4 linked regions of the Homo sapiens genome follow. The protein of the gene in region 3 interacts with the protein of the main gene of each other region in a pairwise test. Each region holds a gene or a part of one and is shown on either strand. Other genes may lie near its edges.

Region 1 (7,684 bases), on a different chromosome or scaffold from region 3:
AAAAAATCTGACTCTTACTAAATTCTGGCTCAAATGGTTTGTTTCAACTCAGTTTTGATGAGGACTCGCCAATAAGATATTTATATGACCACTGCATGCATAAAACTAGTACTTGTTGTGTGGTTCTATGTACGGAAAGGAAGCAAAAGCTGTGGGGTAGAGAAAGGACAGAGAGCAAGGAAATCTCTTAGGAGAAAGGAGCAGATGTAGGAGAGTTGAGTCAGGTGAATAATGAAGAGCCTGAGCAGTTCTGTGAATTGCTATGAATTCTAACTCTGAAGTCCTAACAGTCTCTTTATCCAGAGCAATCTTCAATATAGGCACCTCATGAAGCCTGGATCTTAACTTGTTTTCTGCTTTTGGTACATATGTATCCTTACCTGTTGCCCTCTCTACACTCCTAGCTCTATTTCCCACCCCATCTTCCATTACTGGACTTACCCTGAGCTCAGCTAAAGTGTAGAGTGAAAGAAATGTCACTGCTTACTACCCTCTAGGCATGGCATATCTGTTCTGCACACCACTGGAAGATCAATCTCCCTAAAATATTCCTTCTAGTATTCTCCTGCCCCAAATCCTTCACTGGACCCATCACTAACTAGAAAGAAACAGTTCAGCCCCTTAACCTGACATTCAGTGCCTGCCATGACCTGGTCGTAACTTGACTTTCCTGATTTTCTTTCAATACAAGTCTGGAGCTATTCCATGCTCAAGTCCATCAGGTCTCCTAGGCACACCAGTTGCTTTTTATTTTACCTAGGCGCCTTTGTCCTTGTTTCCCATTTCCCACATGCCTAGGATTCCCATTATTCTTTCTATAATTTCCCTGGCTAAGCCAAATTCATGTCTATTCCATCAGATCTTGGGTATATGTGATTGTGTGTATGTATAGATGTATAAGTGAACTAGCACATATGTGCAGACATGAATACGTATATACACACAGGGCCGAATAAATTCTGAGAGGTCAGTGTTTGCAGCACATCACACAAGAAACCTACCCCTTTCCTTTTGTAATTGCTCTGACTTCAATACTGTCTTATAAATTGTCCAGCCTGTGCTCCACTTGGACAAGCTTATCAGAAACTCAGAAACAGGAATACTCATAAGTGCTCTGTCCTTGTCAACACTGAAGATTGAGAGATGAATGATAGGTTTTTAACCCCAAAAAGATCTTGGAAAATTTTAACAGCAGATGCAATGTGAGTGGGCCTCATCCAATCAATTGAAAACCTGAATAAAACATAAAAGCTGAGTAAGAGGGAGCTGGGCCTGCATGACAGAGCAGGGACATTGGCCTTTCCTGATCTTCGGACTTGAAATATTGGCTCTTCTTGCGTCTCTAACCTGATGGCTTCTGGACTGGAACTTACACTATTGCTTTTCTGGGTCTCAAGCCTTTGGACTTGGGCTGGAACTATGCATGGGCTCCCCTGAATCTCCAGCTTGCTTACTGCAAATCTTGGGACTCCTGCTTCTATAATTGCATGAGCCAATCCCATAGAATAAATCTCTTTATTTGTATTTATATGTGTAGACTTACATATTTATATGCATACTTACACAAATTTATATTTGTTTTATGCATTTATAAATGTATTGCCTATATATACATATACTATGTTTTCTTCTAGAGAACACTGAATAATACATACACGTAACTCTGTTTTTGTGCTGTTATTGTTCTAGTACCTGTAAGATCAGACTACTACAGGTGACTGTTGTGCTATCTTTATTCAATTATGATACTCAACTATTCCCAAAATGCCTGACTTCTAGAAGATTCCTGGGGAAGAGAGTTGACAGAATTTAGAAATTATAGAATGACATGGCCTAATGAAAAAAGCAGAATGTCTTTGTATATATGTTTAATTTTTAAGTTGTCTTTTGAATTGGTAAAGTGGTAATCATGGTATACAATGTAGATATTCTTCAGCTTAAAAGCAGTTGATTATTCAATAGTCCTGGTACCAATTATTTGCGTGGTATATTATAGAGACCTGATGAGCTGTGTGTGGTCTATTTCATTCATTCATACTTCTAGTGTTATGTTTCTCCCTCTCTTTTTAACCTTATTGAGACTCTGACCTTCTGAACTTAGTTGCTGCATCTGGTTTCCTCAGACCAATTTGGAGAAATTTAAGTTGAAAACTCAATTTTCACCAAGTCTGCCAATCACTGACTAATGGAGTACATTTGATCTCTGAGTGAAGCTTTAAAAAATCCATCTAAAGCTCTGTGTTACAGTGGCACAGAAGCAATCTGACACTTGTAAGGAAAGATAGCCTTATGTTTCTATTTTAAAAGCCATATTATATTTGTTCTGATTTTATGCTAATTTACATGCATCATCATAAGTGGCTTTGAGTACTGATCTTTTCTTTCATAGTGATGAAAATAATAAAGTCTTAGAGATTTGCATTCTGGTGTGAGGATCTGTATTTCTCTTTTACTTCCTCTGATAATTACCCAGTTTCCTTCAAATCATTCTCTACTAATTTAGAAGACCCTGTCTGTGATAGGGAGTGTCTCTGTCTTAGAAAAAACTGAAAGAGGGCCGGGCGCCGTGGCTCACGCCTGTAATCCCCCCACTTTGGGAGGCTGAGGCAGGAGGATCACGAGGTCAGGAGATCGAGACCATCCTGGCTAACAAGGTGAAACCCTGTCTCTACCAAAAATACAAAAAATTAGCCAGTTGTGGTGGCACATGCTTGTAGTCCCAGCTACTCAGGAGGCTGAGGCAGGAGAATCGCTTGAACCCGGGAAGCGGAGGTTGCAGTGAGCTGAGATCACGCTACTACACTCCAGCCTGGGTGACAGAGTGAGACTCCATCTCAAAAAGAAAAAAAAGAAAAAAAGAGAAAAACTGCCAGAGAATCAGGGAGAGACTGTTTCAAATTTCTACTACAAGCCAGTGATGGGGATAGAATTAATTTCTAAGCCACCTCATTCTACTTTAAAAAGCACTGTACATTTTTACCTCATGGCCTCTTTCTCATCTATTTTCCTCTAGTAAAGCATTTTGTAATCAACACAGAAATATGATGAGAGTTATAGCTAAATGGCTAAAGTTTATGCACACTTGCTTGGTATTATTCTAAGCACTTTACAATTTCTGATCTAATTATTGAAACAACCCTGACTTTACAGAAGAGGAAATAGTCACAGAGTTCAGTAATTTGCCTAGAGTTAAATTGTAGCAAGTGGTAGAGCCAGAATTTGTATCCAAGCATTCCAGATCCAGAGCCTTCTGCTTTAACATATGATTTGTCTCCCACTCTGCTATGCCAACATCACAGGTCAGAGCTTTGGATCATTGGGCTTTAGGAAATCCTTTGCAATTCTGAGTTACTAAATTATTATAGAAAGGATTTGATTTTACGGCTTGTTTTTAAATGTCAGAGAAAACTAAGAGTTTCCAGGCATTATAGGTTTTTCTCTTAAAATATCTTAAGGGTCCATATAATGGCATTTGCTGCATGATGTCAATTCAAGTTAATGCACCTGTTAAATATCTGTGATTTAATGAGAAAACTAGACATGGATGAATTAGTATGTTGCAAGTGTGATACTCAAATGACTTTACTAACAAAATTCTTTAATAAGTTAATTCCTTAAAGATCAGACAAATACCTGCTACTCAAGTCCCTTATATCACCCCCAAGTTACTTGTGACACTTCCTCCCTGGACCATCTGCTCTTGACATCTTCTCTTCCCTATCATCAAAACTTGCTTCCCACAGGGCTTTGCCAGGCTAGTCTGTTAAGCGATTTTAGTCCCTATCACTCACACCCCGCATCCCAACTAATTTGTATTTTAACAAAACTTGTGGGAACAAACTCTTATTCTAAATGAGTAACTCTATTCAGGTTGGTGGAGCTGCTATTTGGGAGCATCTGAGTCTCAATTTAAAGTTCTGAATTAGGTCAGTTTAAATATGGGACTCCCTTAGCAGACACAGACCTAGCAGCCCAATTATTTTTTCCATGGGGAAAAGGGTATGTCCTCCAGGTAGGAGGTGCTATGTCCTCTTCAGACACTAACAGAATTTGAGTGTAATTGCAACCAAGTCATTCATCACAATTACTTTTTATTTTTATCAATGCCTCCATGGTTTATCCTGTCACTATGTTCATGGTGCCTGTATTAGTCTGTTCTCATACTGCTACAAAGAAATACCTGAGACTGGGTAATTTATAAAGAAAGAGGTTTAATTGACTCACAGTTCTGCATGGCTGGGGAGGCCTCAGGAAACTCACAATCATGGTGGAAGGCAAAGGGGAAGCAAGCTTAGGCCTTCTTATGTGACAGCAGGGGAGAGAAGTAGTGTGTACAGAAGGAAAAGTCAAACACTTATAAAACCACCAGGTCTCATGAGAATTCACTCATTATCATGAAAACAGCATGGGGGAAACCACCCCCATAATCCTATCACTTCTCACCAGATTCTTTCCTTCAGGCCTAAGGATTACAATTCAAGATGAGATTTGGGTGGGGACAAAAAGCTAAACCATATCCATGTCTGTGTCTGCATGTATTTCCTCTGTGATGTGGGCCTGTCAGTCTCTCCAAGTCACAAAATGGGTCTCCTTTAACTGAGTCTCTGGCTAGGTCAGTCCATGAGTCTGGGCACAGCAAGGAAGGTGAGACTTGGAGTGAAGGGAGTATTCCTGTTTAACTATAGGGATTCTATTAATTCGTCTCTCAGAATTTTCACAGAGAATCAGGCTGAATTAGAAATGCTTTACAGTGGGAAGTGGTATAATGGAAAAGTATCCACAGAGGGTTCAGGTTCTGCTCTTGGGTTCTCATTCTAACAAAAACCCAAGCTGGGGAACCCAACTTGCTTTTCTCTGTCAAATAAAGGATCTCAAAAGTTTTCTTCAGTTCTAAGCCTTGATGCTTCCCAGTGTTCCATTTGTCCTTTGTTCACAGGGTGGCCTGTGCCAGACTGCCCGGACTCACTCCTGCACCACTTATTAGTGGTGTGACCTGGGGCAAATTTCTCTGTGTCCCTAAGCTGTAGCTGCTTTATTGGAAAAATGGCGTAGCAATAGTACCCATTCCATAGAGTGATGGAGGATTAAATGAGTTAACCTATGTGCCTGGCATGTGGCAGGATGTAAGAGGATGTAAGAGATTTTATTAACATCATTGTTATCATCATCGTAGGGTGCCAATTATAATTAGTTGGTAGTAAGTACATGAATGGCGAGGAACTCTTAGGGATCTTCGGAAAAGAAGGTTAGAAAGAGGATTCCTGAGATGAACATCTATATGTGCCAACACAGTTTTCCCCCCATGGAACCTGATTTTGATTTCTGACTTCCATTTCAAATAATCAGAGGCATTAGAGTTTAATTACATCTAATAATTTAAAGTACATTTTAGTTCATGCTGAAGGCCCCAGATGGAAAGATAAGCACTAAGCAGAATCCCAGTAGAAGAGCTGGATAGAATACTAAAATCAATAGAAATAAAAAATTTCATTTGTGCACAATGTTTTGCCAGTCCCCTGCCAGGCAGGTAGGAGATTTTATAAACCTCTGTTCCTTTATATCTTTCACTGTGTTAGTCACAGCATCTGGACTGAGTTATAATTACATCTTTTTAGGGCTGTTTTCTTCTAGGTCCCATATGGGGGTGGTTCTTCTCTCACCTTCCACATGGACCTTTATGTCCTCTCTTCACTGTTTTCATTTAGACTCTTTTTTTTTTTTTGAGGTGGAGTCTCACTCTGTCGCCTAGGCTGGAGTGCAATGGTGCGATCTCGGCTCACTGCAACCTTCGCCTCCTGGGTTCAAGTGATTTTCCCGCCTCAGCCTCCTGGGTAGCTGGGATTACAGGTACCCACCACCATGCCTGGCTAATTTTTGTATTTTTCTGGAGGTGGGGTTTCGTCATGTTAGCCAGACTGGTCTTGAACTCCTGACCTCAGGTGATCTGCCTGCCTTGGCCTCCCATAGTGTTCGAATTACAGGCGTGAGCCACTGCGCCCGGCCTCATCTAGCCTCTTAACTGATAGGTACATTAGTTAATGTCCAGTGAAGTTGGACATCATTGTGTTACATAAACAGAGTTGGGCTTATAAACGATAGGTGGGAGCATCTTTCAGTTAATCAGATTTGTACAATTGGAATGGTGAATATTGACACAGTTACCTTGAAGAAACTAGGCATACTGAATTGACATCAACTATAAGAAATTTGCCATTAAAAATCTTTATAAGTTCTTGTATATGAAAAGCTTTATAAACTAGAATATCCTATGGAAATAAGATATTGTAGTTAGTTCTACTACTTAAACCTAGTGATTTTTAAATCAATTGGGCATCCTAAAACAATGAATAGTTTTTAATTGCTGGAGGGAGGGAAGGCATCACTACATCACTACTGCAGGTGGGATTTTATAGAATTATAAACCAATCTGCTCACTTAGACATTCTGTCTGCCTAAATTGTCATGTGTTAATTCTCTTTAGTCATATTACATCTGGAGCAGAGCATTGCACTTAACTGTGCAAATCAGAAGGATTTATCTTACATCCTTATTAGTATTTCTCTCTTAATATTACCAGGGACCAATTCCTATTGAATAAACAAACTTGGAAAATGTTCTCCATGTGATTGTTAATACATATATGCATAAAACTCCACATATAAATCTATATAGGATAAAAATCTTAGCTTACATATGTTTAAAAGAAATCAAATTAGAGCTCTCAAGATACCAGCATATCTTATACAGGACGATGATTTTTTACAAAAGGGCATGTTTTAATTTTTGGATTGCATCAATCAAAAATATTCAATACAAAATTTTAGTTTATTAAATTAAAAATTCTAAGTGGTCATTAAAACTGATAACCTAGACCGGGCATGTTGGCTCATGCCTGTAATCCCAGCACTTTGGGAGGCTGAGGCAGGCAGATCATGAGTTCAGGAGTTCGAGACCAGCCTAGCCAACATAATGAAACCCCGTCTCTACTAAAAATACAAAAGTTAGCCTGGCATGGTGGCGTGTGCCTGTAATCCCAGCTACTCGGGAGGCTGAGGCACAAGAATCACTTGAATCCAGGAGGTGGAGGTTGTGATGAGCTGAGATTGCACCACCACTCCAGCCTAGGCAACAGAACGATACTCCATCTCATACAAACAAACCATCATCAACAACAAAAAACTGATAACCTAGTTGGAGTAGATTTGATGAAATGAAATGATGAACTAGCTTTCCTGGTTGAATCAGCAGCAAACATTTGTTAATAACTCTCCAGATTTTACAGGATCAGGCCAAGGAGCAGATGGGATACAGATTTCTAATACAGAATGTCACCGCAAGAGTGCTGCTCCTTTTCCAGATGCTTTTCCTGGGGGCAGTTGGATTGTGAGAGCTGCACTTTGCAGGAGCCTGGTTACTGTTTCTGTGAATAAGATAAAATGGTGTTTATCCTCTGTCGATCAATACTGTCTTGTTTGAACTTATTGAGTCATTTTAGAGACACATAAGGTAATGAAAACCATTGTGCAATAGTACCCACAGTACTACTCAGCTTTCTAAGGGATGACAATTTTTAAAAGACAGTTACTGAAACAGATTTTTAACATCAACTGCCTCCATGATGAAATGAGCATGCACTGTGTCAGGGTGTCCCATGGGTTTGGGTGAAAAGGTGTTGGGGTTTTAT
Region 2 (4,159 bases), on a different chromosome or scaffold from region 3:
ATAGCAGGCAGTAGAGGAAGTGAGCTGCCAGCACTGGGCTGCAGGGCAAGCAGAGTACCAATCCAGTGTTTACTTTGTTCTAGGCTGTTTTGTCGTGACCGTTCAACTTGGAGAAACCAATGTAGTTCAGTAAGGCATATGATTGACTACATAATTGATTAGTATTGGTTAGGAAAGTTGCCTCCTGTTTTGACATGTTTTCCTGTGAGAAAACCATGTTTAACTTACATCTTTTTTTTTTTTTTTTTTTTTTTTTGAGACAGTCTTGCTCTGTCGCCCAGGCTGGAGTGCAATGGCATGATCTCGGCTCACTGCAACCTCCACCTACTGGGTTCAAGCAATTCTCCTGCCTCAGCCTCCCAAGTAGCTGGGACTACAGGTGTGTGCCACCATGCCTGGCTAATTTTTTTTTTGTATTTTTAGTAGAGATGGGGGTTTCACTATGTTGGCCAGGCTGGTCTCGAACTCATGACCTCGTGATCCACCTGCCTTGGCCTTCCAACGTGCTGGGATTATAGGCATGAGCCACCGCGCCTGGTCTAACTTACATCCTTTTGCTCTTAGAGCAAAACCTGCCTGAGCTTAGGGTATCCAGCCCAGCACCCTGCTCTTGTGGGCATAATATAAATAACATTTGGTGGTGATGCTGCTAGCAAATAATTCCCAATCCCATGTTTCTTCATTTTCCCTTTATTCATTTATTTAGAGTCAAGGTTTTGCCTCTTGCCTAGACTGGAGTATACTGACATGATCATAGCTCACCGTAAACTCAAACTCCTGGGCTCAAAGCAGTCCTCCTGCCTCAGCCTCCTAAGGAGCTGGGACTACAGGCATGTGCTACCACATCTGGCTGAATTTTAAAATTTTTTTGTGAGCCAGGTGCAGTGGTTCACGCCTATAATCCCAGCACTTGGGAAGCCAAGGAGGGAGGATTGCTTGACGCCAGGAGTTTGAGACCAGCCTGGGCAACGTAGCAAGACCCCATCTCTAAAAAAAAAAAATTTATGGAGTCAGGGTCTCGCTCTGTGGCCCAGCTCAAACTCCTGGCCTCCAGCAGTCCTCCTGCCTCAGCTTCCCAAAGTGCTGAGATTTTAGATGTGAGCCACCACACCTGGCCCTGTTTTCTCTTAATGATGTACTGCCTCACCTCTCAGTGGACTCTGCCGACCGTAATGTCCCTTTCTGCCACATTGCCACTTACCAGCTATTTCTCCTTCAGCTGGATAGCTTTAACTTAAATGAATTTTATTTTCCATCACCTAGGTTAAGGGTGGCAAATAGGTTTCAACTCTGGGGCTATTACTGATTAATTAATAACGGCTGCCTGAGTTCTGGGTTGATAACATTCAGAGGCAAATCTAGCTCAGCAGGGAAGAATACTGATTGATTGGCAATGTCTGTGATGGGCACAGGGATAGGACTTGGGGCACTCATGTCTAAAATACTCAAAAAAAGGTTAAAAATCAAGAAACCTCTTAACACATCAGATTATGAATGGTGGTTATCTCTAGATGGTCAGGTTACAGAGGATTTTAATGTTCTTTTGATAATGTTCTATGTTTTCTACCTTTTTGATAGTGAACATGTATTATTTTAATGTGCAGGAAAAAATAGCGTTATTTTGAAAAGGAAAGTCTTATCGGAATGAAACCAATGATTTGAATGTGCTATTAGTGCTAGATTCTGTAGTTGCAATATACCTAGCAGTGGGGTAGGTGTCACTGCCTTTTCCTTTCCTCTACTCTGAGAAATCCTTTGACCCTGGGCCATCATTCTTGCTGTGAGATAGAATGTGTGACTGGCTGATTCATGTGTCATCTTCCAATCGGGCAGGTCGAGGTGGTGCATCTATCTATGGCAAACAGTTTGAAGATGAACTTCATCCAGACTTGAAATTCACGGGTAAGTGTATAATTTGGCTGGACTGGGTAGGAACGGGGATTTTAAAAGCTCACTCTTTTGGCCATGATTCAAGGTGAATGCCTGACACCGTGGCATGGTGCCAGATAGCTGCCCAGCCATGGCGCCATGAAGTGCCCTGGTGGATTAGAGAAAGCAGCGCCTCTCACAAAGTTCTGAGCAATTCAGAGCACTGGTCGGTGTGTTCTAGACTCTAACTACTTGTTAAAGGTCACAGGATATCAAAAGTGTCCTCAAAGAAACAGGAAACCTTGCTGGGTTTTTGAGGGCAGTCAGGAACATGGTCCACAGTTAGTGAGGAGCATCAGGGGTCAAGGCTGGGGAATAGGTGAGGACAAGGAAGATGAAGTCGCCAGAATAGTGTAGTGATGGCCTTTGTACAGGGCAGAGAGACTGCCCTGAGGGGTTGTCTGGGTCTGGACAGAGGCCAGAACAAAGTCCTGGCTGCTTTTTCATCCCTAGGATGGGGCAGCAGCTCTACACTGGACCTGTGGGGTTATTTATACTCTTTCCTTTCTTCCTTTTTCCCACCAGGGGCTGGAATTCTCGCAATGGCCAATGCGGGGCCAGATACCAATGGCAGCCAGTTCTTTGTGACCCTCGCCCCCACCCAGTGGCTTGACGGCAAACACACCATTTTTGGCCGAGTGTGTCAGGGCATAGGAATGGTGAATCGCGTGGGAATGGTAGAAACAAACTCCCAGGACCGCCCTGTGGACGACGTGAAGATCATTAAGGCATACCCTTCTGGGTAGACTTGCTACCCTCTTGAGCAGCTCTTCTGAGATGGCCCCAGTGAACCAGCTTCTAGATGACATAGAATGACATGTAATGCTAAATTCATTTTGGCTTTGCAAGTCATGAAGCTTAGGAGGCCTGGCATCTTGGGTGAGTTAGAGATGGAAGTACATTTTAATAGGATGCTTCTTTTCTCTTCCCCCAGTGCCTAGGTTGCCAGAGCATTTGCACAAATGCCCCTGTTTATCAATAGGTGACTACTTACTACACATGAACCATAATGCTGCTTCTTGTGCATGTCTGCTCTGATATACGTCGAACAATGTAGCAGCCACTGTCATTTCTCAGTGGTTTTGCCTAACCAAACTTCTTCCTAAGGAGATTTATATTCTGGCCTACACAGCAGTCCTTGATGGCTGACAGCCACAGAATTCCAAACCAAGTAGTGTCTGTCAGCCCTCTTAACTCTGTGCACGCCCTATTTCAGTCTTTTACATTTGTTCTTCTAGGGAATGTATGCATCTCTATATATATTTTCCCTCTCAAAACCAGAACATCAACAGTGCTGTTTCTGACACTTCAGACATCCCACGCAAAGCCACATTGAATTTTTGCCAAATGAAAAACACATCCAACAATCAAGTTTCTAAGAAGGTGTCAAGTGGGGAATAATAATAATGTATAATAATCAAGAAATTAGTTTATTAAAAGGAAGCAGAAGCATTGACCATTTTTTCCCAGAGAAGAGGAGAAATCTGTAGTGAGCAAAGGACAGACCATGAATCCTCCTTGAGAAGTAGTACTCTCAGAAAGGAGAAGCGCCACTCAAGTTCTTTTAACCCAAGACTTTAGAGAAATTAGGTCCAAGATTTTTATATGTTCAGTTGTTTATGTATAAAAATAACTTTCTGGATTTTGTGGGGAGGAGCAGGAGAGGAAGGAAGTTAATACCTATGTAATACATAGAAACTTCCACAATAAAATGCCATTGATGGTTGAAATTGCTGCTGTGGTCTGATTCTAAATATTGTATGAGGTTCCAATGGTCATTTTAATCCCAGTCATCTTAAGTAGTAGTACAGAGATTGAATGTTCAAGATTTCACATCATTTTAGGCTTGTGGATCTCCAGTAGACTTCTCCCTCTTTAAGAGCAATTCTAACTTTAAAAGGGCAGAACCAGAGAAAGAATTAAGTGACAGAAATTGACATTTCTGAATAAGAGGTGTATTCATCTGTTTTCACATTGCTATAAAGACACTACCTGAGACTAGGTAATTTATAAACAAGAGAGGTTTAATTGACTCACAGTTCCACATGGCTAGGGAGACCTCAGGAAACTTACAATAATGGTGGAAGGCAAAGGAGAAGCAAGCACCTTCTTTACAAGGTGGCAGGAGAGAGAGCGAGCACGGGGGAAACCACCATATTTAAACCATCAGATCTCATGAGATCTCCCTCACTATCGTGAGAACAGCATGCAGGGGGAAAATGCCCCATGA
Region 3 (4,289 bases):
CAGCAGCTGCAACGCGACCCGCAGAAGGCCCTGTGTGACCTCCATCCTTCCTGGAAGGAGATACAGGCGCTCCAGTGTCGGCCTGGTCACCCTCCTGAACAGCCCTGGGAGACCAGTCAAATGCCGGAGTCCCAAGTTAAAGGTAGCAGAAGGCCCAAGTTCCACGCACGGCCTGAAGACTACGCAGTGTCACAGCCCAACAGAGACATACAGGAGAAAAGGGAAGCCTCCCTCGAGGAGAGCCCAGTTGCCCTTGGGGAGTCAGCCAGTGTCCCCCAAGTTTCAGAGACAGTCCCTGCCAGCCAACCTCTGTCCAAGAAAACCAGCTCCCAGTCAAACTCCTCCTCTGAGGGGTCGATGTGGGCCACCGTGCCGTCCTCCCCTACTCTGGACAGGGACACAGCCAGTGAGGTGGATGACCTGGAGCCTGACAGCGTGTCCCTGGCCCTGGAAATGGGGGGCTCGGCGGCTCCTGCTGCCCCCAAGCTCAAGATCTTCATGGCTCAGTATAACTACAACCCATTTGAGGGGCCCAATGATCACCCTGAGGGTGAGCTGCCCCTCACAGCTGGGGACTACATATATATCTTCGGGGACATGGATGAGGATGGCTTCTATGAGGGGGAGCTTGAGGATGGCCGGCGGGGGCTGGTGCCCTCCAACTTCGTGGAGCAGATTCCGGACAGCTACATCCCAGGCTGCCTGCCTGCCAAATCCCCTGATCTTGGCCCCAGTCAACTCCCAGCGGGGCAGGATGAAGCTCTGGAGGAAGACAGCTTATTATCTGGGAAAGCCCAGGGAGTGGTGGACAGAGGGCTGTGCCAGATGGTCAGGGTGGGCTCCAAGACAGAAGTAGCAACAGAGATCCTGGATACCAAGACGGAAGCCTGCCAGCTGGGCTTGCTGCAGAGCATGGGGAAGCAGGGCCTCTCCAGACCCCTTCTGGGGACCAAAGGGGTGCTCCGTATGGCTCCCATGCAGCTACACCTGCAGAATGTCACAGCCACATCAGCCAACATCACCTGGGTCTACAGCAGCCACCGCCACCCCCATGTGGTATATCTTGATGACCGAGAGCATGCCCTGACCCCAGCGGGCGTGAGCTGCTACACCTTCCAGGGCCTGTGCCCCGGCACGCACTACCGGGCGCGGGTGGAGGTGCGGCTGCCACGGGACTTGCTGCAGGTGTATTGGGGAACTATGTCCTCCACCGTCACCTTCGACACACTCTTGGCAGGACCTCCCTACCCACCGCTGGATGTGCTGGTGGAGCGCCATGCCTCGCCAGGTGTCCTGGTGGTCAGCTGGCTCCCTGTGACCATTGACTCAGCTGGGTCCTCCAATGGAGTCCAGGTCACCGGTTATGCTGTGTATGCAGATGGGCTTAAGGTTTGTGAGGTCGCCGATGCCACTGCTGGGAGCACCCTATTGGAATTCTCCCAGCTACAGGTGCCCCTCACGTGGCAGAAGGTCTCAGTGAGAACCATGTCACTCTGTGGTGAGTCCCTGGATTCAGTGCCTGCTCAGATCCCCGAGGACTTCTTCATGTGTCACCGATGGCCAGAGACTCCACCCTTTAGCTACACTTGTGGCGACCCATCCACCTACAGAGTCACCTTCCCCGTCTGCCCCCAGAAGCTGTCACTGGCTCCTCCGAGTGCCAAGGCCAGCCCCCACAACCCTGGAAGCTGCGGGGAGCCCCAGGCCAAGTTCCTAGAAGCATTCTTTGAAGAACCCCCAAGGAGGCAATCCCCAGTGTCCAACCTGGGCTCAGAAGGAGAATGTCCGAGTTCAGGGGCTGGCAGCCAAGCCCAGGAGCTTGCAGAGGCCTGGGAGGGCTGTAGAAAGGACCTGCTCTTTCAGAAGAGTCCCCAGAACCACAGGCCACCTTCAGTCAGTGACCAGCCTGGGGAGAAGGAAAATTGCTCCCAGCACATGGGCACCAGCAAAAGCCCTGCTCCAGGATTCATCCATCTACGCACCGAGTGTGGGCCCAGGAAAGAACCGTGTCAGGAAAAGGCTGCCCTTGAGAGGGTACTTCGGCAAAAGCAAGATGCCCAAGGGTTCACACCTCCCCAGCTGGGCGCCAGCCAACAGTATGCATCTGACTTCCATAACGTTTTGAAGGAGGAGCAGGAGGCACTGTGCTTGGATCTGTGGGGCACAGAGAGGCGAGAGGAGAGGAGGGAGCCTGAGCCCCACAGCAGGCAAGGACAAGCTCTGGGGGTGAAGAGAGGGTGCCAGCTCCATGAGCCCAGCTCGGCACTGTGTCCAGCTCCATCCGCCAAAGTCATCAAGATGCCCAGGGGTGGCCCCCAACAGCTGGGGACGGGGGCCAACACTCCAGCCAGGGTCTTTGTGGCCCTCTCTGATTACAACCCCCTGGTGATGTCTGCCAACCTCAAGGCTGCAGAGGAGGAGCTGGTCTTCCAGAAAAGGCAGTTGCTAAGAGTGTGGGGCTCTCAGGACACCCATGATTTCTACCTCAGCGAGTGCAACAGGCAAGTGGGCAATATCCCCGGGCGCCTAGTGGCTGAGATGGAGGTGGGGACAGAGCAGACTGATAGGAGGTGGCGTTCTCCGGCCCAAGGGAACCTGCCTTCTGTGGCCCACCTCGAGGACTTTCAGGGGCTCACCATCCCCCAGGGTTCCTCCCTGGTGCTCCAGGGGAACTCCAAGAGACTCCCACTGTGGACTCCAAAGATCATGATAGCAGCTCTGGACTATGATCCTGGGGATGGGCAAATGGGGGGCCAGGGGAAGGGCAGGCTGGCGCTGAGGGCAGGAGACGTGGTCATGGTTTACGGGCCCATGGATGACCAAGGATTCTATTATGGAGAGTTGGGCGGCCACAGGGGCCTGGTTCCTGCCCACCTGCTGGATCACATGTCCCTCCATGGACACTGAGCAAGCATCCTTGCCCAGGTAGTGGCCTCTGGCTGCTCACACCCTGCCAGAGGAGAAGCAAGCGTTCAGACCCTCACACCAGCACCCCTCCTCACCACCATAAGTAGCATGTGCTCCAAGTGCCACTGTGTTAAACTGATGGTAGTCCTTAAGCGTCCCCTAGGCTCTGAAAGTAGCAGGACTTAAGCCTGAGTTATTTGCAAAAGCAAACACAACAAGCCAACCCCTGAGAGTCTGAGAAGCCATTTCAAAGTTGCTGATAACTATGGCAGGTATACGGAGAAGCGCCTTTTTCTGTGGCCAATGTGTGTTTTCTCTGGGAGGTTAAGGTTATCTGTCCATTGCCTTGTACGAAAGTCTCAAGAAAAGTCTACATCTTAAAAAAGAAAAAGCAATCTGAGTGTTATTTTTGGGATGTGAGGGTGATCTGGCTGCGACATGTGTCACCCCATTGATCATCAGGGTTGATTCGGCTGATCTGGCTGACTAGGCGGGTATCCCCTTCCTCCCTCACCACTCCATGTGCGTCCCTCCAGAAGCTGTGTGCTCAATGGAAGAGGATGACCATCCCCGATAGAGGACGATCGGTCTTCAGTCAAGAGTATAAGAGTAGCTGCGCTCCCCTGCTAGAACCTCCAAACGAGCTCTCAGAATGTTATTTTTCTGTCTTATGTCCAACCCCTCATTAAAATGTTCATAGAAAAAACATATTTTAGAAGTTGAAGCACAACCAAGGAAACATGAGCCTGGCTTTCCTCCCTCTCACTTCTGCGCATTGGGTCCGCAAGGGCTACAGAAATGTTTTCCTGGCTGAGGAAGGGAGGGTGCACCCTTCTGCTTTTTTTTTCCTGGCTGCAGTCTATTCCCAGAACACATTCCATCACATGGTTCCCAGAACTCAGATTGTGCGGTGGCCACGTCATCATTGGCTGGGGCTCACAGTCACAGCAGCAGAGGCCTCCCTAAACCTCCCTCTCCTCTAGCCCCACCCGCTGTCCCCTGCTCCTCATGCCCCCATGCTGTGTCCCCTGGCCTCACTTCCGTTGCCATGTTTTCATAATCCTCTCAGGCTCTGGGCAGCAGCGCTGCCCACAGTAGGACCAGATCATGTAAGGAAAATACTGCAGGCTCATCTTGGGGCTGCACTGGCGACCTGAGAACACCTTATCCTACTGTACCTGCTGCACCTCATCTGACACCAGCTTCTCTGCTTTGCCCAAGGTCCCTAGGCCCTGAATGCTTACTTTTTAAGGTCAGCCTGGCTCAGGATATGCTAGTTTGGCTGCAGAGGGTCCTACTAAGAGCCAGGACTGAGGAGCAAGGCCCAAAAAACTCCTCTGGGCCACATCTTCCCCGAGGGCATCCCCGCAGGGAGGCCGTGT
Region 4 (7,859 bases), on a different chromosome or scaffold from region 3:
GGGCAGTTGGAAGAGAAGGGAAAGAATGAATATAGGTGAAAGGTAAGAGTGTCATAGGGTAAGCTGGGAGGCCAGGAAGAGTTTGGACAGACAGCTCAGAGTAGGAAGAGAGTTCAGAGCGGGGAGGGAGACCTGTTGACTCTGGGAAGGGGAAAGGGAAAAAACACTGGCATCCTGACTGCAGGGAAACAATGAGGCAGCGGAGAGCAAGTATCCCTCATTGCTGAGGGAGCTGCCAAGACCCCAGGCAGCCTCAGTCTGTGGGGTGCGGCCTGTGGGGTGCGAGGAGAGGGGCACAGGCTGGGAGCTCCGGTCAGTCCTGGCCCTCCTAAAGGGCTTGAGTTCAGCTGCCTTATCAGGGAACCAAGCCAAACCAGCACAGACCTAAGGATCACCCCATGGATGGAAGCCCACCCTTCTTCAGCCAGTCTACAACTCCTGGTATCCGGGAAGGTCTGTGCACACACAAGGTGTGCACACACACACACACACACACACACACAAGGCGTGCACACACAGCTACAGAGTGAGCTGAGTAGTCACAGCCAAGCACATGTGTGCTTCTAGGAGGCCTGCTGGGCACGGGAGGCAAAGACCATAAGTGGGAGAAAGGACAGCCTGAGTTTCATGAACTAAAAATATCTTGGTGACAACGCATTGGGAAGAAACAGGAGAGGCCCGGGGGGCAGCTTCTTGATTCCAGTCCTCAGACACTTTCTCATGGAAAAATCCTTCAGACTGCAGGATTGTTTTGATAAGGAAATGTGATCAAACATTAGGGGTCATTTCATTGGATCTGAAAGGAATTTAAAGTTGAATATGCCTCATCTGTGTTCACTCTTTTTTTTCTGCAGCAGTTGCCTGCAATTCATATATGTTTTTAGAAGCTAATTTAAAATTGCCTGCAGAAGAAAAATGATTTGAATTCAGGATATTCCTGAGATTTCCATTCTACAACGTGTAAAACAAAGATTTCATTTAGACAAACTACCCCACCATAATCTTTCTGAATGCCTGTTGAAGAATGCCTGCAGATATGACTGTCTTCTCCTCTTCTTTTTCTTTTCAGAGCATTTGAAAGTCACTAACTCCTTAATCCCAGGAGAAGCAGGCTTTAACATTTCCTGTCTCTACACCTTCCAAAAATGAGTAACCCTGAGTTAAGAACCTTTCTATCCGACATGTTGGTACATTACTCAGACCTCACTTCTGTTTAACCCACCCCATGCAAGGAACAGAGCAGAGTAACTACATTATCCATCTTTTGATGCTCCATCATGGAGTGACTGGTAGCTGCAGCAGCAGATTAAGAATGACTGTGGTGTGTGGCCTTTAAGGATTAGAGCGAGGCTGGCAAGTGCACAACAGTTAGCCTGCTTTCAGATAATGGTGCATCGTTGTTTGAAAATAAAATCAGGAACTCATTGCAGGTGAAATATCTTGAAATTCCTGTCCTTTCATCCCAGGGGAATAGAGAGAAATGCCTAAAAACATGACACGGACTACACCAGGACATCCCACAGAAACCAAAAGTCCTGCACCAGCCCATCCCAGTCAGCTAGGGCCTGTTTGAACTGTATTGATGGCAAGTAATTGCCAAAAAGAAACAATGACAATTTTTTTTTAAGTCACGGTCTGGAAAAAGTTAAGGATTCTGTGTATCCGCCATCTAATAATGTCTCTAATCACAGTCATCACCCTTACATGGTATTAGGATGTGTTTCATAGTTTCCCTTCCCCTCCCATTAAAGGCCCCACACACAGTGACTGGTCCAGCTGAGGAGTGGTTTCCAGGTCCAGCTACAGCAGTAACTCTGGCTTCTGGAGCTGGGCTTGTCTGCCAGTTCTCTGGCCTGCCTTGACTCTGTGGACAATAGCACAGACTATCCTTCCTGGGTAACCCAAATGGGACATGAACTAATTCGAGAAACTCCCTGTTTTCTCCTATTTGGCTAGAGCCAGTAATAAGGCCTCAATTCCAGGCAGCCCTCCCGCAGAGACACGTGTCTCCCAGCCTTTCGCCCTGACTGCTGCTTTACCTCTTGCCTTGAGAGCAGACGAGTGAAACAGAAATCAAAGCAGTTGACATGGAAGGGGGGTGAGCACCTACTAGGCATTTGGTAGCATGCTGGATTCTGGGAGGTAGAAAAATATCAGGAAACAAAGTCCTTTCCTCAAGGGGGTAACCAACTGGTAGTGGGAGGTAAAATTAAAATATGTGAATAATCGGTAAACAAAACAAGTCTTGAAGACCACCCATTACCACTACCCCTCTGGGACTATCCTGGCTTTGTTTTATAAGGGAATTTGACACACTCATGTTAGATCACCACCCCCCATCAATTTACTGATGAAGAAATCCAGGCTTAGTGGAGTCAGAGTGAATTGCCTAAGTCATGGAACCACAAGAAGTGAAGAACTTGAAACCAAGTTTCTTGTCCTTTTAAAAAATTTGGCCTCTTGTTCTCCTGTTCCTTTAAAAAAAAAAAAATCCCCCTATTCTAAGATACCATCTTGAACTTGAAAGTCACAAGAAGCTTGATTAGCTTCTAAGATCAAGTTCTGGCATTTCTCCCCCTTGTTCCCAAAGGCTCCGTCCAGCGCCAGGCTGGGAGGGCTGGAGGGCGGCTGCGGAGAGGGGCCGGGAGGCGGCTCACAGCCAGCACAGAGCTCAGCAGAACTTCCTGGCCCAAAAATGTGCTGTTGATTTTTTTCCCCCCTGCACGAAACAAGGATTGAGAAAACTGCCACTGACGTGTTCTGGGGCTGAAAGCCAATTACTTAATCTTTGCCATCCCTGGCTCTCTCTTTGGAGAAGTGGGGCTTGAATTCTTGAGAGAAACTTGTGGGGACACTAAGTACCCAAACGAATGGTTCCCAGGCAGCTCCGAGCTGTCCCCGTGTGCGAGCCTCCTCTCCTCAAAGGGTTAACCCGGCGGGGCTCGCTGGCCTGAAATACTATACTAGCAACACATCCTTGCAGCACAAACTTCACTGTCATTTTCTCAGCTAAGATGGTCTCTGTGCGAACAAGTTAAAGGAGGGGAGACGAACACAGAGGAAAGTAGAGGCAGAATGTTTCAGTAAAGGAGAAACAGCGTGCTTTGGGAAATAGGTCAGAGGTGAAGAAATAAGACCAGGCAAGTGGCAACTCCGAATAACTTACCTTAGATCCACCACGGACAGACAGACTGGGCCCGGAGGGTAGTCGGCTCTCGGCGGCTTCTCGTCTCCCTCCACCTTCTCCGGGCCCAGGTAAGTAGAAGAACAGGCTCTGAAGCAGGAAGTGGAAGCTGTATGCAAATTTCTACGGAGCCTAGGAAGCCTCTGCTCAAAATCTCCCTGTGGGCAGTGAATCAACGGCTGAGGAGTCACTTTATTTCTTAAAACAGAAACCTCCTTCATTCATGAGAAAGGGCCAGTGACCAATTAGGCGGCATTTTTGTTTTCGCCACCCAGCTAAGAAGCTGCCCAGGAGTGGGCAGAACCTCAGTGTAGTCGCAGTGCCCTCGCCTGGGAGGGTGTCTCCGGGAGGAGATTGAACTCGAATGTTAAGAATTAGTAATCATTAGCAGCTCCAAAGGAGGGGATTGTGGGCAGATAATGGGGAAGAAGAGGGAGTCGAGCTTCTTCCACCTCCTCTAACTGCTTAAAACATCAGCATTGCCGAGCGCGGTGACTCACGCCTGTAATCCCAGCACTTTAGGAGGCCGAGGCGGGAGGATCACGAGGTCAGGAGATCGAGACCATCCTGGCTAACAAGGTGAAACCCCGTCTCTACTAAAAAATACAAAAATTAGCCGGGCGTAGTGGCGGACGCCTGTAGTCCCAGCTACTCGGGAGGCTGAGGCAGGAGAATGGCGTGAACCCGGGAGGTGGAGCTTGCAGTGAGCCGAGATCGCCACTGCACTCCAGACTGGGCGACAGAGCGAAGACTCCGTCTCAAAAAAAAAATTTAAAAAAACCCAAAAAATCAGTATTTGCTGCCCATAACCACTGGGGGGGTGGGGGGGGGCTCACTGACCATGCTCCTGGACACACGTGTACACACAGCATACACATGCCTGTGGCTTGTGCACACACACCACCCTATTGTCAGGCACAAAAAAAGTGGTTAATTTTAAGAACACACACACACACATACATACACATGCACACATGCACACTAACCTCCTCTGGCTGCATTTTCCTGACCTCAAGATTTTTTTTCTCCCCTTTCCTTCCCATTGTTTAATCAGTAGCCTGCAGAATTTATTGCATGAAGGAGCGCTGCAGGCAGGATGATACCCAGCGATGTGAACAGAGAGAGAGAGAGACAACTGCCTTTCGGGGCAGCAGTCAGTAATGGGAGCAGTGTTAGCTGGAGCTTTGGAGTCAGGAGGACCTGGGTACGAACTCAGCCATGTCACTGGCCAGCTGGGCGCCCTGGGCAGACACACCATGCTCCTGGTGCTGGACTTGTCTGCCTGTTGAAGGGGTCCAAGTGTCAGTCCACTCAGCCGGCTATCTCTCTACTCTCATCAAGGGGACAGGCCCCAGAGCATCCCTGTTCAGATTGTACCAGGTTCTGCTCAAGCAGGATACAGGAAGCAGGTTGCTCAACATTCCACAAGCAGAGAAAATGCAGCTTGTTTTTAACACAGTATACACAGGTTGTTTGCATTTGGTTTGCAGAAAATGATGCAGCTATTAAAAATCATCAATATGTATGTATTATCTGAGCCACTAACATGAAAAAGTGGCTCTGAGATATTATTTAACTAAAAGTATTATCTTATTTTTTGCCAATATATGTGACATATACACACACATAGATATGTATATCGATTTTTTTTAAGAGACAGTGTCTCAGTCTATTGCCCAGGCTGGAGTGCAGTGGCGCAATCATAGCTCACTGCAGCCTTGACCTCCTGGGCTCAAACAATCCTCCTGCCTCAGTCTCCCGGGTAGGTGGGACTACAGGTGCACACCGCCACACCTAGCTAATTTTTAAATTTTTTCTAGAGACAGGTCTCCCTGTGTTGCTGAGGCTGGTCTTGAACTCCTGGTCTCAAGGGATCCTCCCACCTTGTGAGCAGCAAGCCACCCAGGTGCCGAGGCAAGAGACCGAGGACACGAGCTGTTCCAGTACAATAAAATATAAAACAAGAATAGTTATACCAGATATAGATCTTAGATATGATTATATATGAATATCATTAATCATTAGTTTGTAGCAATTACTCTTTATTCCAATATTACAATAAACCTTGCTCTATAATCATAACCTAGGAAAAACCAGGCCATACGAGATAAGAGCTGAGGGGACACAGTGAGAAGTGACCAAAAGACAAGAGTGCGAGCCTTCCGTTATGCCCAGACAGAGCCACCAGAAGGGCTCCTTGGCCTAGCGGCGATGCCAGCATCTGGGAAGACGCCTGTTGCCAGGCGGACCGTGGTCTAGTGGTAGCGAAAAGCGTCAAGGAACAACACCCGCTACTTAGCAGACGGGGAAAGGGGTTCCCGGGGGAGTTTAGAAAAGACTGCCCCTCCACCTCTTGTGGAGGGCCTGACAGCAGTCAGCCTTGCCCACAGTTATCCGGAGGCCTAACCGTCTCCCTGTGATGCTGTGCTTCAGTGGTCACGCTCCTAGTCCGCCTTCATGTTCCATCCTGTACAGCTGGCTCTGCCTTCTAGATAGCAGTAGTAAATTAGTGAAAGTACTAAAAGTCTCTGATCTACAAAAATAATGGCATAAACTGTCTTTCTCTTTGTCTCCTCTCTCTCTCTGCCTTGGCTGCCAGGCAGGGAAGGTTCCCCTGTCCAGTGGACACGTGACCCACGTGACCTTACCTATCATTGGAGATGACTCACACTCTTTACCCTGCCCCTTTTGCTTTGTATCCAATAAATAACAGCGCAGCCAGACATTCGGGGCCACTACCGGTCTCCGCGCATTGGTGGTAGTGGTCCCCGGGGCCCAGCTGTCTTTTCTTCTATCTCTTCGTCTTGTGTCTTTATTTCTACACTCTCTCGTCTCCACACACGGAGAGAGACCCACTGACCCTGTGGGGCTGGACCCTACACCACCTCAGCCTCCCAAAATGCTGGGATTGCACGTGTGCCTCACTGCACCCAGCCCAACATATAGATTTGTGTTTGCTCACCACTGGGCCCCAGGGGACCTAGCACACTGCCCTGCCTAGGACATTGTGGGCAATCACTGTGTATCTGTTCAGTGACCAAGTTAGAAATATCTGGAAAGATGTATGCCAAACTGTTTAGTGGTGCTCACTTCAAGGGAATGCGATTGAGGAAAATAAATAAGGATAGAGGGCTTTATGATATATACATATGGACTATTTGATTCTTTTTTTCACAATAACATGTAGGACTTTTTCATTTAAAAGAATGAAGTTTTTTAAAAAAGTTTTATTACCTTGGCTTTGAAGTTTCTGCTTCAAAATTATTATTAGAGTCATCTTTTGGAGGGTAGGAAAAAATAGCATTTTCTGTGGTCCGGTTGGTACCAGGATACTTTGAGAGAGCTACTGGAGTTAGGAAATGGGAACGGAAAAGCAAAGAAGAATGGCAAGGGGAGGAGCTAGCAGGGAGAGCGAGGGGAGCAGGAATGGAAATATTTTTCATTTCTCTTTGTTGTCCTTAAATGGATTGGGAAAGGCCTGAAGATGCTCTGCCGAGTACCACCTCTGAAATACAACCCGCCAGGGAGAACAAAGGGAAACTTTTCTCCAGTTCTCCACCAACTGTTTTCCTGGGTGTGAGACCTAAGAGCCCTGTAGGAAGAACACAAGTGCCGAAGTGCTGCTTTTCATTGCTGTTGGCTGGGCCTTCCTCTTGTCTACAGTTTGTTTGTTTGTTTGTTTGAAACGGAGTCTTGCTTTGTCTCCCAGGCTGGAGTGCAATGGCACGATGTCGGCTGACCGCAACCTCTGCATCCTGGGTTCAAGCAATTCTCTCACCTCAGCCTCCCGAGTAGCTGGGATTACAGGTGCCTGCCACCACACCCAGCTAATTTTCTTGTATTTTAAGTGGAGACGGGGTTTCACCATGTTGACCAGGCTGATCTCAAACTCCTGACCTCAGGTGATCCGCTCGCCTCCTGTCTAAATTTATCATGAGCAGAAAGGCAGGCACTTCAGGGAATGAGTTCATGGTTCCCTCTTAGAAGCCTCTGCTGGGGCTCCGGGCTGAAAAGCAGCCTGAGGATGGCCACTGTTTAGAGAGGGTGTCCTGAACAGGAGAAATCTCCTCTGAACCTGCCTGAGGCAGTTATGGTGAAGTACAGGTGACCCAGGCGAACACACACAGCTTTTGAATTGCTGTCACGGGAGAGCAACTCTTCACTGAGGACCTACCCTACACTCCCTTTGAGCATATCTCATCCTCCAAACAGTCCTGTGAGGTGTGTTTACTGTCATTCCCACTTTAACTTTGAGGACTCTGAGGCTCAGAGATACTGAGTAACTTCTGCAAGGTCACACAGCTCATCTATGGAGGAGTCAAGCCCAGAGCAGTCTCCCTTCCAGGTGGATGTTATTACTGCCCCCTCCCTGCACCCCGCCACAGCCCCCCAACCCCTACCCTCCATTGCCCTGTTGCCATCTGTTCTTCCTACATGCTTGGGTGGAGCACAGGTAACACACTTTCTTTGCACAACTCTTGACAACGCTTAAGAAGGGAAAAAAAGGTGTAGACAATAAAAGGGTGGGGTTGTGACTGTGCCACAGCCTGGTGCTGTGTTTATATGTAAGGATTGCTGTACAGATCATAAATAGAATAGTCAAGATGTGGGTCAGTCTTCTCTCTCTTGTTAGAAATCTAGAAGGGGAGCATGTGTGTTTGCCAGATCCTAGAGT

Evidence for each region.
Region 1: the proteins of RIMBP3 (region 3) and A1CF interact in binary tests that used the Homo sapiens proteins (3 or more experiments, as listed by UniProt).
Region 2: the proteins of RIMBP3 (region 3) and PPIL1 interact in binary tests that used the Homo sapiens proteins (3 or more experiments, as listed by UniProt).
Region 4: the proteins of RIMBP3 (region 3) and TRAF3IP2 interact in binary tests that used the Homo sapiens proteins (3 or more experiments, as listed by UniProt).

Annotation. Positions count from the first base shown.
Region 1 is NC_000010.11:50,875,286-50,882,969, forward strand, and holds part of A1CF (APOBEC1 complementation factor), read right to left. Parts: intron 1-7,684. UniProt on the Homo sapiens protein: Essential component of the apolipoprotein B mRNA editing enzyme complex which is responsible for the postranscriptional editing of a CAA codon for Gln to a UAA codon for stop in APOB mRNA.
Region 2 is NC_000006.12:36,854,329-36,858,487, reverse strand, and holds the end of PPIL1 (peptidyl-prolyl cis-trans isomerase-like 1), read left to right. Parts: intron 1-1,833; coding exon 1,834-1,902; intron 1,903-2,454; coding exon 2,455-2,675; 3' UTR 2,676-3,659; downstream 3,660-4,159. UniProt on the Homo sapiens protein: Involved in pre-mRNA splicing as component of the spliceosome. PPIases accelerate the folding of proteins. Catalyzes the cis-trans isomerization of proline imidic peptide bonds in oligopeptides. Catalyzes prolyl peptide bond isomerization in CDC40/PRP17.
Region 3 is NC_000022.11:18,605,133-18,609,421, reverse strand, and holds the end of RIMBP3 (RIMS-binding protein 3A), read left to right. Parts: coding exon 1-2,907; 3' UTR 2,908-3,607; downstream 3,608-4,289. UniProt on the Homo sapiens protein: Probable component of the manchette, a microtubule-based structure which plays a key role in sperm head morphogenesis during late stages of sperm development.
Region 4 is NC_000006.12:111,602,610-111,610,468, forward strand, and holds the start of TRAF3IP2 (E3 ubiquitin ligase TRAF3IP2), read right to left. Parts: upstream 3,270-7,859; 5' UTR 3,167-3,269; intron 1-3,166. UniProt on the Homo sapiens protein: E3 ubiquitin ligase that catalyzes 'Lys-63'-linked polyubiquitination of target protein, enhancing protein-protein interaction and cell signaling. Transfers ubiquitin from E2 ubiquitin-conjugating enzyme UBE2V1-UBE2N to substrate protein.